Linked DNA regions of Homo sapiens: region 2 is linked to region 1. Evidence: fine-mapped expression QTL. Tissue or cell type: whole blood. Region 1 holds a variant in brackets; the other region holds the start of a gene. All regions are shown on one strand. Distances are from middle to middle.

Region 1 (8,105 bases):
TTTTTAGTAGAGATAGGGATTGACCATGTTGCCCAGGCTGGTCTTGAACTCCTGGGCTCAAGTGATCCACCCACCTCAGCCTCCCAAAGTGCTGGGATTGCAGGTGTCAGCCACCACACCCAGTCTTATTATTATTTTTAGAGATGGGGTCTTGCTATGTTGTCCAGGCTGGACTGGAACTCCTAGGCTCAAGTGGTCCTCCCACCTCAGCCTCCCAAGTAGCTGGGACTATAGGCACACACCACTGCATCCTGCTAGACTTAATTGATTTGCTGAAGGGGTTGGGGAAAAAAACAGACTAGTCTTAAATAAAAGTTAGCAGGGACTCCTGATGTGGCAGTATAGGATAATGGTTAGAATATGGGATTTGGAGCTGAAACCAGGTTATCTCACTATATAACTATGTGGCCTTTCACCAATTACTTCTCTAAGCTGCAGTTTCTATGGCTGTAAAATAAGGATACAGACAATACTGGCCGGGCGCAGTGGCTTATGACTGTAATCCCAGCACTTTGGGAGGCCAAGATGGGCGGATCACGAGGTCAGGAGATCGAGACCATCCTGACTAACACAGTAAAACCCCATCTCTACTAAGAATATTTTAAAAATTAGCCAGGCGTGGTGGCATGTGCCTGCAGTCCAAGCTACTCGGGAGGCTGAGGCAGGAGAATTGCTTGAACCCGGGAGGTGGAGGTTGCAGTGAGCCAAGATTGTGTCATTGCACTCCAGCCTGGGCAACAGAGCGTGACTTCATCTCAAAAAAAAAAAAAAAAGACAATACCTACTTTTAAGAGCTGAGGTATGAATTAAATGAGATAATATACATAAAGCATGAAGGAAAAAAAAGTACCCAATACATGAGAGTTATGAATATGATGATTATTACGTTTTACTACAGGCAACCCTTCTTATCTTCAAAGCTGTACATATATAGAATTCTGGAAAATTAATCATTTCTATATACCAGAAAAGTCTTAAAGGAGTACTGCAAAAACTCTGTTGTTTTTTTTTTTTGTTTTGTTTTTGTTTTTTGAGATAGAGTGTTGCTCTGTTGCCCAGGCTGGAGTGCAGTGGTGCGATCTTGGCTCACTGCAACCTCTGCCTCCTCCAGGAGAAGCGATTCTCCTGCCTCAGCCTCCCGAGTAGCTGGGATTATAGGCACCTGCCGCCATGCCTGGATAATTTTTTGTATTTTCAGTTGAAACAGGGTTTCATCATGTTGTCAAGGCTAGTTTTGAACTCCTGACCTCAAGGGATCCACCTGCTTTGGTGTCCCAAAGTGGCCTCCCAAAGGATTACGGGCATGAGCCACTGCGCCCAGCCTGCAAAAACTCTTTGAAACAAAGGTCTGCCAAACAATTTGTCTTTGAATTACTGTTTATGGTATGCCTGCTGGTTGTTCAAGGAGTCCCCAGTGTCCCAAGGAATTTAATTTAAAATTACCTGAAATGGTTTCTGCATAAATATGTTCCTTATAGCATTTTTTTTTTTTTTTTTTTTTTAGAGTCAGGGTCTCGCTCTACTGCAAAGGCTGGAGTGCAGTGGTGCAATTATGGCTCACTACATCCTCAAACTCCTGGGCCCAAGCGGTCCTCCAGCCTCCTGAGCCGATGGGATTATAGGCATGAGTCAGCATACCTGGCTTGTTCATTACAGTATTGTTTATAATAGACAAAAATTGGAAATAGCCTAAGTGTCCATGAGCAGGTTTAATTATTAGTATAGCCATGAGGAAATATTACACACTTTTTAAAAAATTTATTTATTTTTTTGAGACAGAGCCTTGCTCTGTCACCCAGGCTAGAGTGCAGTGGCGTGATCTTAGCTCACTGCTACCTCCACCTCCCAGGTTCAAGGGATTCTCCTGCCTCAGCCTCCCTAGTAGCTGGGATTGCAGCAGAGGGTGGCAGGCAGGCACCTGCCACCACGTCCAGCTAATTTTTTGTATTTTTAGTAGAGACAGGGTTTCACCATGTTGCCCAGGATTACCTGACCTCAGGTAATCCACCCACCTCTGCCTCCTGGGTTCAAGCAATTCTGCTGCCTCAGCCTCCTGAGTAGCTGGGATTATAGGCGCCCGCCACCATTCCTGGCTGATTTTTGTATTTTTAGTAGAGACAGGGTTTCACCATCTTGGCCAGGCTGGTCTCGAACTCCTGACCTCATGATCCACCCGCCTCTGCCTCCCAAAGTGCTGGGATTACAGGCGTGAGCCACCGCGCCTGGCCTAAGCACTTATTAAAAATGATGGTGAAGGCCGGGTGGTGTGGCTCAATGCCTGTAATCCCAGCACTTTGAGGGACCAAAGCTGAAGGATCACTTGAGGCTAGGAGTTTGAGACCAGCCTTGGCAATGCAGTGAGACCCTGACTCTAATATTTATATAATAATCATCATTTCAAAATGCTGGTGAAGACTTTCTGATTGCATGGAACAATGCTTAAGTGAAAAATATAGGATGCAAATGTAACATATAGAATTATCTCTGTCCTTTTTTTTTTTTTTTTTTTTTTTTGATACAGAGTCTTGCTCCCTCACCCAGGCTGGAGTGCAGTGGCAAGATCTCGGCTCATTGCAACCTCCGCCTCCGGGGTTCAAGTGATTCTCATGCCTCAGCCTCCCAAGTAGCTGGGATTACAGGTGTGCGTCACCACGCCCAGTTAATTTTTTGTATTTTTAGTAGCAACGAGGTTTCACTATGTTGGTCAGGCTGCTCTTGAACTCCTGACCTCAAGTAATCTGCCCTCCTCAGCCTCCCAAAGTCCTGGCATTACAGGCGTGAGCCACCACATCTGGTTTGAATTATCTCTGTTCTTAAAAAAAAAAGATTGATAATACACTGAGATGTTAACAGTAATTTAATTTTGGGGTGATAGTACATACACATGTACACACACACACACATATACACATACATATGTTTTTTTTCTTGTTCCTTATAGTTTTATATATTCAAAACCAATATTATTTAAACTTTTAAAACTGCTTTAAAAGAATCACAAAGCCCATTCTTTCTGGAAAGAGAAAAGTCACACTGTGATGTGTCTTTTTTTTTTTTTTTCCCAAATACTCTGGCTTGGGAATGTGCTATCTCTTAATTTTCCCAATTTTACTTTGCAAGGTAAAAATTTTGGCTGAGTGTGGTGGCAGAGGTGGGCAGGCAGAGGCAGGCAGATTGCTTGAGCTCATGAGTTTGAGACCAGCCTGGGCAACATGGCAAAACTGCATCTCTACAATAAAAATACAAAAATCTGGCCGGGTGCAGTGGCTCAAGCCTGTAATCCCAGCACTTTGGGAGGCTGAAGTGGGCAGATTACCTGAGGTCAGGCTTCAAGACCAGCCTGGCCAACATGGTGAAACCCTGTCTCTACTAAAAACGCAAAAAATTAGATGGACATGTTGGTGCATGCTGGTAATCCCAGCTAGTTGGGAGGCCGAGGCAGGAGAATCGCTTGAACCCGGGAGGCGGAGGTTGCAGTGAGCCGAGATCGGGCAACTGCACTCCAGCCTGGGCAACAGAGCGAGACTCCATCTCAAAAAAAAAAAAAGAAAAAGAAAAAAAATCACCCAGGCATGTACCTGAGGCGGGGAAAGGAAAGGCTGAAGGGGAATCTTTTACTTCTGTTTGTTTTTTGTCTTTCTTATTCTTTCTTTTACTTTTTTACTTTATAAATTGTATGGTTTAAACTTTTTAACTTGATCATTATACCTTTTTATTTTTTTATTTAGTTTTTGAGAGAGTCTCGCTCTGTTGCCAAGGCTGGAGTGCAATGGCACGATCTTGGTTCATTGCCACCTCCGCCTCCCGGGTTCAAGTGATTCTCCTGCCTCAGCCTCCCGAGTAGCTGGGATTACAGGCACCCACCGCTGCACCCGGCCAATTTTTGTATTTTTAGTAGAGATGGGGTTTTGCCATGATGGCCAGGCTGGTTTCAAACTCCTGACCTCAGGTGATCCTCCCACCTGGGCGTCACAAAGTGCTGGGATCACAGACGTGAGCCACCGTTCCCGGCCTACCTTTTTAGTTTTATTTATTTATTTATTTATTTATTTATTTATTTATTTATTTGAGATGGAGTATTGCTCTGTTGCCCAGGCTGAGTGCAGTGGCCCAATCTTGGCTCACTGAAACTTCCTCCTCCTGGGTTTAAGCGATTCTCCTGCCTCAGCCTCCTGAGTAACTGGGATTACAGGTGCATACCATCATGCCCGGATAATTTTTGTGTTTTTAGTAGAGAAAAGGTATGTTGGCCAGGCTGTTCTCGAACTCCTGACCTTAAGCGGTCCACCTGCCTCAGCCTTCCAAAGCTCTGGGATTACAGGTGTGAGCCACCATGCCAGGCCTCACTATCCCTTTTTAAATGCCAATTTTGCTGTGGGAAAAAGATATCAGCTAAGAGATATAACAAAGAAGTCTAGAAGTGAGACACTTAGTCAGGCTTTCCTTTTCTAACTTCTGCTTCCTATATTAGGTAATGTGTAAACTGGGATGGCCCTGACCAGCCCCAAGGTGCCCACCAGTCCATACTTGCGTCAAACACATGCAGCTTCGTGTCCTGCACGGGCTGGGCACCTCTCTCTCCGCCCCCAAAGACATATAGCTGGTTTCCAATGGCTGCCGATGATGTGTGGAATGTTCTTGGGGATGGTGGGGG[GC/C]TGGTCACTTCTGGCGTGGTCCACGTCCTGGTTTCTGGGCCAGAGAGAATGCAGGCACTTAAAATATCCAGGTAGAGGGGCTTCTGACCTTGACTCTGGGGCTGAGTGAAGTCAGTTTCCAAACTCCAATCCCCAGGGGGGCCAGCATAGTTTTGGGCAGGGATCTCATACTCACAAACATCAAGGAAGAATGAAGATGATACTTAGGATTTGCCAAGACAGTCCAAAATCCCCAAGATTTAAAAGCTGTAAGCACAAGAATGGAGTCAGGCTGGGTGCAGTGTGGCTCATGCCTGTAATCCCAGCACTTTGGGAGGCCAAGGCGGGCGGATCACTTGAGGTCAGGAGTTCGAAACCAGCCTGGCCAACATGGGGTAAAACCCCATCTCTACTAAAAATCTGAAAAATTAGCCGGGTATGGTGGTGGGGACCTGTAATCCCAGCTCCTCAGGAGGTTGAGGCAGGAGAATCGCTTGAACCCAGGAGGTGAAGGTTGCAGTGAGCTGAGATTGCACCACTGCACTCCAGCCTGGGTGACAGAGCAAGGCTCCATATTAAAAAAAAAGAAGAAAAAAAAGAGGTCAATTTGTTTTGGAGGCCTTCAAATATCCTCTCTGAACCCTCTTCTACTTTGCTCACTATCGCTCCCCCTAACATCTGCTAACATTCATTCCCACTAGATGCCAGAGTCCAGGTGTGCCAGATTTCCCAGAAAATGTGGCCAATAAAAGAAAGTAGGCAGGCCATGTGCAGCAGCTAACACCTGTAACCTCAGCAGTTTGGGAAATCGAGGTAGGAGGATTGCTTGAGCCCAGGAGTTTGTGACCAGACTGGGAAACAAAGCAATATCCTGTCTCTACAAAAAATCAGCCAGGGGTGCAGTGGCTCACGCTTGTAATCCCAGCACTTTGGGAGACCAAGGTGGGTGGATCACTTGAGGGTAGGAGTTCTAGACCAGCCTGGCCAACATGGTGAAATCCCATCTCTACTAAAAATAAATAAATAAATAAATAAAGCCAGGTGTCGTGGTGGGGACCTATAATCCCAGCTACTCAGGAGGCTGAGACAGGAGAATCACTTGAACCAGGAGGCGGAGGATGCAGTGAGCTGAGATCATGCCACTGCACTCCAGCCTGGTTGACAAAGCGAGACTTCATCTTAAAAAATAATAATAATAAAATAAAATAAATTAAAAATTAAAAAAAATTAGGCTGAGCACAGTGGCTGTAAGGCCTGTAACCCTAGCACTTTGGGAAGCCAAGGCAGGAGGATTGCTTGAGCCCAGGAGTTTGAGGCTGCAATGAACTATGATCGTGCCATTGCACTCTAGCCTGGGTAAAAGAGTAAGACCATATCTTGAAAAAAAAAAAAAAGAAAGAAAGAAATGAAAAAAAAAAAAAGACAATACTATTACATTTCAGTAGCAGTAATAACAGTCCCTACTAAACAGTAAATGCTAAACAAATATTAATTTCCGCATTTTACAGGTAAGAGAATTGAAGTAGGGATGGATTAAGTAACTTTTTAAAAGAGACATGGCTAGCCAGGCTCGGTGGCTCATGCCTGTAATCCCAACACTTTAGCAGGCTGGGGCAGGTGGATTGCTTGAGCCCAGGAGTTTGAGACCAGCCTGGGCAACATGGCAAAACCCTGTCTCTACAAAAAAATACAAAAAAAAATTAGTCGGGTGTGGTGGCGTATGCCTATAGTCCCAGCTACCTGAGAAGCTTAGGTGGGAGGATATACTGAGCCTGCAGCGGTTGAGGTTGCAGTGAGTCAAGATCACACCACTGCAACTCCAGCCTGGGTTACAGAATAAGGCAAAGAAAGAGAGAGAGAAAGAGAGAGAGAGAGAGACAGATAAAGTGACATGCCTAAGAAATGGCTGAGTTGGAATTTAAACTCTTTCAGTAACACCAAGATCTTTCTAATTCCCACTCCTCTGACTGGAGAATAAAATTTCACCACCTAGATAGATGTATAGAAGCTTATTTCTTTTAAGGATGAACCTGGGTTTTATAGAAGCAGATGCATTAATTGAGCACCCTCAATGGGCAGCATCATTGCCCTGGGCACTGCCATCCCTGGTGTCTTCACTCAAGCTTGGGAAGTGAGCGGAAGTATCTCTACTTTTAGATGAGGAAACTGAAGCTCTGCACATTTAAATCCTTTCCTGCAGGTTATAGCATATGTGCGTAGCAGAGCAGGAGTTTGAACTCAGTTCTTTTTTTTTTTTTTTTTTTTTTTTTTTGAGACGGAGTCTCGCTGTGGCTCCCAGCCCAGAGTGCAGTGGCGCGATCTCGGCTCACTTTGCAAGCTCCGCCTCCCGGGTTCACGCCATTCTCCTGCTTCAGCCTCCCGAGCAGCTGGGACTACAGGCATCCGCCACCATGCCCGGCTAATTTTTTGTATTTTTTTTTTTTTTAGTAGAGACGGAGTTTCACCGTGTTAGCCAGGATGGTCTCGAGCTCCTGACCTCCTGATCTGCCCGCCTCGGCCTCCCAAAGTGCTGAGATTACAGGCGTGAGCTACCGCGCCGGGCCTGAACTCAGTTCTATCAGAGTCCCACACTTGCTCTACCATAACACACCAAGAAATTCTGTCTTTTGTAAAAGGTCTACATCCAATATATAAAATGCTACAGGAAACATCTGTAATATGTGTGGGACTCAAATGGGGACCTGGAGACTGAAAAAGTCTCAGCCTATATCCAAAGCAAAATGTAGCTGTCTCTATAGTTACAGATGTTGGAGAGCTTTTGGATCTTAGAGGGAGCTAGAAAGGTATACATGTCACCTCCAGGCCCAGAAGACCCTAGGGCTGTATTCCTGCCAACTCAAACACCAGCACAAAGAATCACAAAGGAGTCCTGAGCATTTGAGGGACTTGCCTTGGTAACAAATGCAACTAAGTACATATTTCATATTTCTTGGGCATGATGTCAAATTATATTTTCTAGGAGAGAAAAGGGATATGATAGAAAATCACCCTCTTTAATATAAAAATTAGCTGGGCATGGTGGCATGTGCCTGTAATCCCAGCTACTCGAGAGGCTGAGGCTGGAGAATCATTTGAACCCAAGAGGTGGAGGATGCAGTGAGCTGAGATTGCGCCACTGCACTCCAGCCTTGGCAACACAGTGAGACACTGTCTCAAAAATAAAAATAAATAAATAAATAAATAAAATAAAATCACCCTCTTTGACAGCTTTCCAAATTCTCACTTTATTTTATTTCAATGGATACCATTGTTGAAAATCAAAAGGCCAGGGTTCCAGAACTGATTTCCCTTTGCCAAACCTTAACTACATCAACTACCACAACAATTACTGAGCATTAATTATGTGCCAGATACTGAGTTTATTTAAATCCTTGACAAATTAACAAGGTAGAAACTATTACTATCCAATGTGACAGAAAACAGAGGCAGAGAGAGGTTAAATCACTAGTC
Region 2 (8,105 bases), 21 kb after region 1:
GGTTTCACCATATTGGTCAGGCTGGTCTCAAACTCCTGACCTCAGGAGATCCACCCGCCTTGGCCTCCCAAAGTGCTGGGATTACAGGCATGAGCCACCGTGCCCAGCCCAGGAGTCTGATTTTTATCCCAACACCAACAGGGAGGCACAAAAGGGTTTTAAACTAGGAAATGCCATGATTGGCTGTATTCTGGGTACAGAGCAAGACAGATGCATGGAAGCCAGTCTGGAGTCTCTCCTTCAAGGTCCTGTTGAAGAACTGCCACCTCTCTACAACCTTCTGTGGGCCCTGACTCAGAGCAGATCACATTTTATCACCATCACCTGCTTAGTCTGTAGTCCCCAGTACACAGAGACTATTTACAATTCTACCTCCAGCACCCACAGAGCAGCTGCCCCCATCAGGCCAATGTTAGTTGTTGAATAAAGGGTTGTTTGAACAAACAGCCAAGAAACAGTGAAGCCAGTTTAATCCAAATCTAATTTCCTAAAAATCTTAAAAATGAGTCAGAGCTCGGGGGAAGACACAGCATTGGAGCTGAGGATGCCAGATGGTCAGTGCCTTACTCTTTCTGGTAAATGGATTTTAATAAAATTAACATCTGCTCTGTGATAATTACTGCCCCCCTATCTTTCCTCTGAAGACTTTCTCAGACAGTTTGAGTCTAATTACCAGAAACTGCAGACAGTTTCATCTCTACCCCTTTTTGTTGATGATCAAATATGTAAATAAACTACTTATAAATGAAACAAAAACTCATGCTTTTCTGTGTCTGGATCCTTCCTTACAGACCATGTTGCTTTCCTGGGCTTGTCTCCAGGTTCCAAGACTGGCAGTTGCTTCATGGTGTCCTATGCATAAGAAAGAAAGGCACTTTTTAGACACTTATGATTATCATCTTAATCAATTCAACCTCCTTTTTAAACCTTTCCTGTTGAATGTACTAATTTCTAGGCCTGATTGATTTGAATAAGAATCACCAACTTTTCATCTTTATTTTTATTATTTATTTATTTATTTATTTATTTGAGATGGAGTTTAGCTCTCGTTGCCCAGGCTGGAGTGCAATGGCAAGATCTCAGCTCATGGCAACCTCTGCCTCCCAGGTTCAAACGATTCTCCTCCCTCAGCCTCCCGAGTAGCTTGGATTACAGGCATGTGCCACTACGCCCAGCTAATTTTTCTATTTTTAGTAGAGATGGAGTTTCACCATGTTGGTCAGGCTGGTCTCGAACTCCTGACCTCAGCTGATCCACCCGCCTCAGCCTCCCAAAGTGCTGGGATTACAGGTGTGAGCCACCGTGCCTGGCCTATGTATTTATCTTTATTATTATTTTTAGATAGAGTCTCACTCTGTTGCACAGGTTGGAGTGCAGTGGTGCAATCTCCACTCACTGCAACCTTCCCCTCCCAGGTTTAAATGATTCTCCTTTCTCAGCCTCCTGAGTAGCTGAGATTACAGGTGCCCACCCACGCCCAGCTCATTTTTCTAGCTTTTCTAGTAGAGACGGGGTTTTACCACACTGGCCAGGCTGGTCACTAACTCCTGACCTCAGGTGATTTGCCCGCCTCAGCCTCCCAAAGTGCTGGGATTACAGGCATGAGCCACCGTGCCTGGCTTTATTTTTTATTTTTATTTTTTCTGAGATGGAGTCTCACTCTGTCACCCAGGCTGGAGTGCAGTGGCAGGATCTCAGCTCACTGCAACCTCTGCCTCCCGGGTTCAAGCTATTCTCCTGCCTCAGCCTCCAGAGTAAGCTGGGACTACAGGCAAGTGCCACCACACCTGGCTAATTTTTTTTGTATTTTTCGTAGGGATGGGGTTTCACTATGTTCGCCAGGCTGGTCTTGAACTTGGCTCGCCTCGGCCTCCCAAAGTGCTGGGATTACAGGCGTGAGCCACTGAGCCCGGCCATTTATTTATTTTTTAATTAAAAATAGAAACGGGGCTGGGAGCAGTGGCTCACGCCTGTAATCCCAGCACTTTGGGAGGCCGAGGCAGGCGGATCATGAGGTCAGATCGATACCATCCTGGCCAACATGGTGAAACCCTGTCTTTACTAAAAATACAAAAAAAATTAGCTGGGCGTTGTGGCCCACGCCTGTAGTCCCAGCTACTCAGGAGGCTGAGGCGTGAGAATTGCTTGAACCCAAGAGGCGGAGGTTGCAGTGAGCCGAAATTGCGCCACTTGCACTCCAGCCTGGCGACAGAGCAAGACTCCTCCTCAAAAAAAGAAAAAAAAATAGAAATGGAGGTTTCGCTTTGTTGTCCAGGCTGGTCTCGAACTCCTAGCCTCAGGCAATTCTTCCACCTCAGCCTCCTAAAAAGCTGGGATTACAGGTGTGAGCCACTGCTCTCCGCTCAAAGGACAAAATATTTAAAGAAGCTGAGAAATACTGAGCTCTGGGATAAATCTTGGCCTCAACATAGCATAGAAAGTAAGGCCTTCTGCTGTTGAGCTTTTTTCCCGTGAACTCACCTCCACAATCTCTTGCATTATTGGTTTTTTTGCTGTTCTTGTAATATGGCAGGCCTTTTCATAATTTTGCAGCCTGTTCTGCTTCCCCTATTTGGAATGTCGCTTCCCTTCTGGGAAATTTGCAAACTCCTAGTTAACCTTCAAAGCCCAGTTCAAAAGTCCCTTCCCTGGTGAAACCTTCCCTGATTTGCCCTTTTCTCTTCCACCCACATCCAAGTTACTTCCTTCTTCCACCCACTGGGCTCTGAAGGTATTAGCCATCACCATTGCAGGAATCATTTGGAATGTTTATCTATTTAAGGCTTCTAGACTAGATTCTAGATTAAATTCCACTAGACTAAGTTCCTAGAGGGCTGGGCCTGTCAGATCCATTCCGAGAACCTACCAATGGACCTGGCATGGAGTAGAAGTGGGGGAGTGGCTAGTGAATGAAGAAAGAAAATAGATTGAGAGATGAATGGATAAATCTCACCTGCGGCCTAGGCCACTGACAGCTGTCCCCAAAGTCCAGAGCTCAGTTAGGCTGGCTTCACGTGGGCGGGACCTCCCGCAGCAGCCGCCGCTACCAGCCCAGCAAATCTCATCCCCACGTGGCAGTTCTAGGGGATAGGAGACGGGGTCGGGAAAGAACAGGCTGATTCGGTCAAAGTGGCCGGGACGGAGCCAGGGAAGGCCCTTCCCCGTTCTTTGCACCCGGCTTGGGCCCACTCCCCTAAAAGATTCAGACTCCCTGCCCGAGACCGTGATAGACCCGGTATCCGGGGACCCTCGCCCCTACCCTCCAGCCCCGGACTGCAATACCTGCGGCGACTTAGGCCAGTCGCGAGCCGTGACTCCACCCCGGAGGGGCGGGGCTTAGGTCCGGGCCCTCCTCCCAGGACCCGGAAGAGCGTCCGGGCCAACCGCTCCCTCTTCCCTGCTCCGCCCCGAGGGCCCGGCGCTGACTTCCTGGGCTGGCGGTGGAGGGGTCCCCCAGACCGGGAGTGGACGCCAGGCTCTGCATTTCTCGGGAACCAAGTGGGGTGGGCCTTCCCTGGGTCCCTCCCTCCCGGACGGGATAAATAAGCCGGGGCTACTTGGAAACGATTTGCGCAATGCCGGGTTCGGGCGTCCGTTTGGGGAACTCAGATGCCTGCGGCAGCTGATCTACTCTGTAAGGGGCTAACAGGGCTGGGCGCCACCACACTCCAGCTTGGGCAACAGCGCAAAAACTCCCTCTCAAAAAAATAAATAAATAAAAGGGGGGGAGGGTATAACAGTTACATTTCCAGTTACAACGATTGTTTTTTTTTTTTTTTTTTGAGACGGAGTCTCGCTCTGTCGCCCAGGCGGGACTGCGGACTGCAGTGGCGCAATCTCGGCTCACTGCAAGCTCCGCTTCCCGGGTTCACGCCATTCTCCTGCCTCAGCCTCCCGAGTAGCTGGGACTACAGGCGCCCGCCACCGCGCCCGGCTAATTTTTTTTGTATTTTTAGTAGAGACGGGGTTTCACCTTGTTAGCCAGGATGGTCTCGATCTCCTGACCTCATGATCCACCCGCCTCGGCCTCCCAAAGTGCTGGGATTACAGGCGTGAGCCACCGCGCCCGGCCACAACGATTGTTAACAGTTTCTAAAGGGGAGAGTTGAGCATGCAATCCTCCTGCGCAGTCTTCGGGCCAGCTCAAGATTTGGTGCTTTAAACAGCTGATTCATTCCATAATTGCCATTTGTAATTATGGCAGGTGCTATGCTGAGCCAGACACCACCACGCTTTGCCTCCAGGAGCAAGTCTTAACTAGAGAGAGATCAAAGAAAAAGACAACTAGGGACGACTGCCAAGAGTGCAATAAATATAAAGTTCAGCCAGGAGAGTATCTGTTCTGAAGTTACTTTCCTCCAGGCCTCAGGGTTGTCTGTTTGTAACCATGGAGCTAATAAGATTTCTATCATAGGCTGGGCGCGGTGGCTCACGCCTATAAGTCCAGCACTTTGGGAGGCCGAGGCGGGCGGATCACGAGGTCAGGAGTTCGAGACCAGCCTGGCCTACATGGTGAACGCCCCCGCCCCCCCCCCCAACTAAAAACACAAAAATTAGCTAGGCGTGGTGGTGGGCGCCTGTAATCCCTGCTACTCAGGAGGCTGAGGCAGGAAAATTGCTTGAATCTGGGAGGCGGAGGTTGCAGTGAGCCGAGATAGTGCCACTGCACTCCAGCCTGGGTGACAGAGCCAGACTCCGTCTCAAGAAAAAAAAAAAAAAAAGAGAGATGTATGTAGTAGTTGTGGTGGGGAATACATGACATAATGTAAATAAAAGTGCTCAGCACCCAGCAGCTGGCACAGAGTTCTCTGTCAAGGGTAAAGCTATTCCTGACTATAAATGAACAATGTCTCTAGACATATTCAGAATCTACATTATCTTTGTTTTAGTTCATAACCATAGGTTCTCTGTGTCTTTCCTGAAAATAGAGAGGTGGCTTGCTCTCTTATGTCTGTTTCAAAGAACTCCAGTCTCTGAAACTGTCGCTGTGTCCTAGAAAATAGAGAAAACAGCTCAGGTTAGAAACAGGAGCTCCTGGAGTATAGAGCTATGGTAGCTTAGTGGGAAGAGATCAAACATACTTGGGTTAAAATCCAAGCTCCAGGCTGGGTGTGGTGGCTCATGCCTGTAATCCCAGCACTATGGGAGGCCAAGGAGGGCAGATCACGAGGTCAGGAGTTCAAGACCAGCCTGGCCAACATAGTGAAACCCCATCTCTACTAAAAATACAAAAATTAGCCAGGCACGGTGATGCGCACCTATAGTCCCAGCTACTCGGGAGGCTGAGGCAGGAGAATTGCTTGAATCGGGAGGCAGAGGTTGTGGTGAGCCAAGATCATGCCACTGCACTCCAGCTTGGGCAACAGAGCAAGACTCTGTCTAAAAAAAAATCAGCCAGGCGTTTGCCTGTAATCCCAGCTACTCAGGAGGCTGAGGCAGAAGAATCACTTGAACCCAGGAGGTGGAGGTTGCAGTGAGCCGAGATCGTGCCACTGCACTCCAGCCGGGGCAACAGAGCAAGACTCTGTCAAAAAAAAAAAATCCAGGGTCCAGCACTAACCATCTAACTCTGACATTTGGCAAGTTACCCACTCTGAACCCTAGTTCCTCATCTATAGAATGATGATAGTATTACCTGCTGTGCAGACAGAACTGTTCAGAGGATGTGCTAATACAGGTGAAAGGCCAGGTTGGTGAAAGGAATATTTTAGCTACTTGAAACCATAACCAAAATTTATTGACAAAATGGAATTCAAGGTCTGCGGCTCTTTCAAACATATGGAGTCTTTGTGAGTTCCCACTTTAGTGGAAAAATCCCCATTGACTGTCTGCCAAAGAGAAGTTTAGGGATATTCAGTCATTCTGCTCTCCTTCAGGAAAGAAAACCAAGTCCAGGTTAGCTCTGCCATATGTCCATGTGCATCTCCACGTACATTTCTGCTCACAGCTGCAGAATGCTCTGATGTCCCCGGTGTTTTCTGGCTAGCTCTGTTTCAAGGTGCCATGCTGGAGTGGCACATCAACAAGAAAAATTGGAAGAGGTTTGTGGGCAAAATAGCAGCCAGTTTTCACTGCGGGACCTATTTATTTATTTATTTACAGACGGAGTCTCGATTTGTCGCCCAGGATGGAATGCAGTGGCGCCCTCAGTTCACTGCAACCTCCGCCTCCTGGGTTCAAGCAATTGTCCTGCCTCAGCCTCCCAAGTAGCTGGGATTATAGGCGTGGCCACCACGTATGGTTAATTTTTGTACTTTTAGTAGAGACGGCATTTCACCATGTTGGCCAGGCTGGTCTTGAACTCCTAGCCTCAGATGATCCACCTGCCTTGGCCACCCAAAGTGCTGGCATTACAGGCATGAGCCACCGTGCCTGCTGAACCTATGCTTTTAGACTAGAAATCACATTTGAGAATGTGGAATGCCTGAGATCTATTTTCTTTTTTTTTTTTTGAGACAGTCTTGCTCTGTCGCCCAAGCTGGGGGAGTGCAGTGGCATGATCTCGGCTCACTGCAACATCCGCCTCCCGGGTTCAAGCAATTCTCTGCATCATCCTCCCAAGTAGCTGGGATTACAGGTACCCGCCACCACACCCAGCTAATTTTTTTTTTGCATTTTTAGTAGAGACGGGGTTTCACCATCTTGGCCAGGCTGGTCTTGAACTCCTGACCTCGTGATCCACCCACCTCGGTCTCCCAAAGTTCTGGGATTACAGGCGTGAGCCACTGCGCCAGGCTGCCTGAGATGTATTTTCTATTTCTATTTTTATTTATTTACTTATTTTGAGATGGAATCTTGTTCTGTCGCCCAGCCTGGAGTGCAGTGTCATGATCTCAGGTTACTGCAACCTCCGCCTCCCAGGTTCAAGCAATTCTCTTGCCTCAGCCTCCTGAGTACCTGGGACTACAGGTGCGCACCACCATGCCTGGCTAATTTTTGTATTTTTCGTAGAGACAGGGTTTCACCATGTTGGCCAGGTTGGTCTTGAATTCCTGACCTCAAATGATTCACCCACCTCTGCCTCCAAAAGTGCTGGGATTACAGGTGTGAGCCACTGTGCCTGGCAAGAGATGTATTTTTAAAAATGGAAATCAAGGCCCAGAGAAGTTAAAATAACTACCCCACATAAAATGGCAGAACCAGGAACCCAGGAACCCAGATCTCTTATTTCTTGCAAGGAAGACTAAGAATGCATTCCAGTCATCAAGCTCTGTTACCCCATCTCCATACCAAACCACTGGAAGTGTCTAACACCTCTCCTAAAAGCTTGCCCAACACTCTGACGCACGCTTTCTTCTTTTCTCTCTGCTGTGGATGTGAAGAATGATGTTCACTCAATGAGGTGGGTCTGCAGGAGGGAGCTTCCTCCTGTCAGATAGTGTGGTCATGTGAGGACTGCCACCTATTTTCACTGGAACAGCACACCACTGACCTCTTTACTGATGCATCAGCAAGGGAAGTAATGAATGCCGGTGAGACCTTCCTTTTAAGCACTTTACAGTTTATGAAGAACATTCACATCCATCTCCCTATTTGTCTTCCTTCCCACTTCTGAGAAGGTATCTTGAATAGGATTTATTCCCAATTACTGAGGTTCAGAGATTAAGAGTGAATTGTGGCTGGGCGCAGTGGCTCATGCCTGTAATCCCAACACTTTGGGAGGCCGAGGTGGGCCAATCAACTGAGGTCAGGAGTTTGAGACCAGACTGACCAACATGGTGAAACCCCGTCTCTACTAAAAATACAAAAATTACCCAGGTGTGGAGATGCATGCCTGTAATCCCAGCTACTTGGAAGGCTGAGGTGGGAGGACTGCTTGAGCCTAGGAGGCAGAGGTTGCAGTGAGCCGAGATTGTGCCACTGCACTCCAGCCTAGGTGACAGAAAAAAAAAAAAAGGCGACAGCCTGTCTCAAAAAAAAAAAAAAAAAAAAGAAAGAAAGAAAGAAAGAAAAACAGCCAGTTTTCTATGCTACCCACAGAGGGGTCCATATGGGGTTGTTATGGATTCCCATCATAACTTAAAGGGAAACTTTCACAATGTCCAGAGCCCTTGCTGTCCTGCAAATGAAGGAGGAGGATGTCCTTAAGTTCCTTGCAGTAGGAA

What was found. PIP is the estimated chance that this variant, and not a neighbour inherited with it, causes the effect.
Region 2: RABEPK starts here. The variant in region 1 is fine-mapped to the expression of RABEPK in whole blood (TOPMed, PIP above 0.99).

What each region holds. Positions count from the first base shown.
Region 1 is chr9:125,217,123-125,225,227 of GRCh38, reverse strand. RABEPK (Rab9 effector protein with kelch motifs) reads right to left here. Exons shown (of 8, transcript NM_005833.4): 5 at 4,528-4,689. Among named protein-coding and RNA genes, the nearest start is that of HSPA5, 20 kb to the left of the region's middle. The variant GC/C (reference allele first, on the strand shown) is at 4,655.
Region 2 is chr9:125,195,755-125,203,859 of GRCh38, reverse strand. RABEPK (Rab9 effector protein with kelch motifs) reads right to left here and starts at 3,318. Exons shown (of 8, transcript NM_005833.4): 1 at 2,954-3,318; 2 at 794-852. The coding sequence starts at 846. It overlaps LOC105376271 (a long non-coding RNA gene), which reads left to right and starts at 3,464. Exons shown (of 2, transcript NR_135145.1): 1 at 3,464-3,634; 2 at 4,205-4,327. It also overlaps the pseudogene RPSAP76. RefSeq lists a silencer at 3,391-3,440.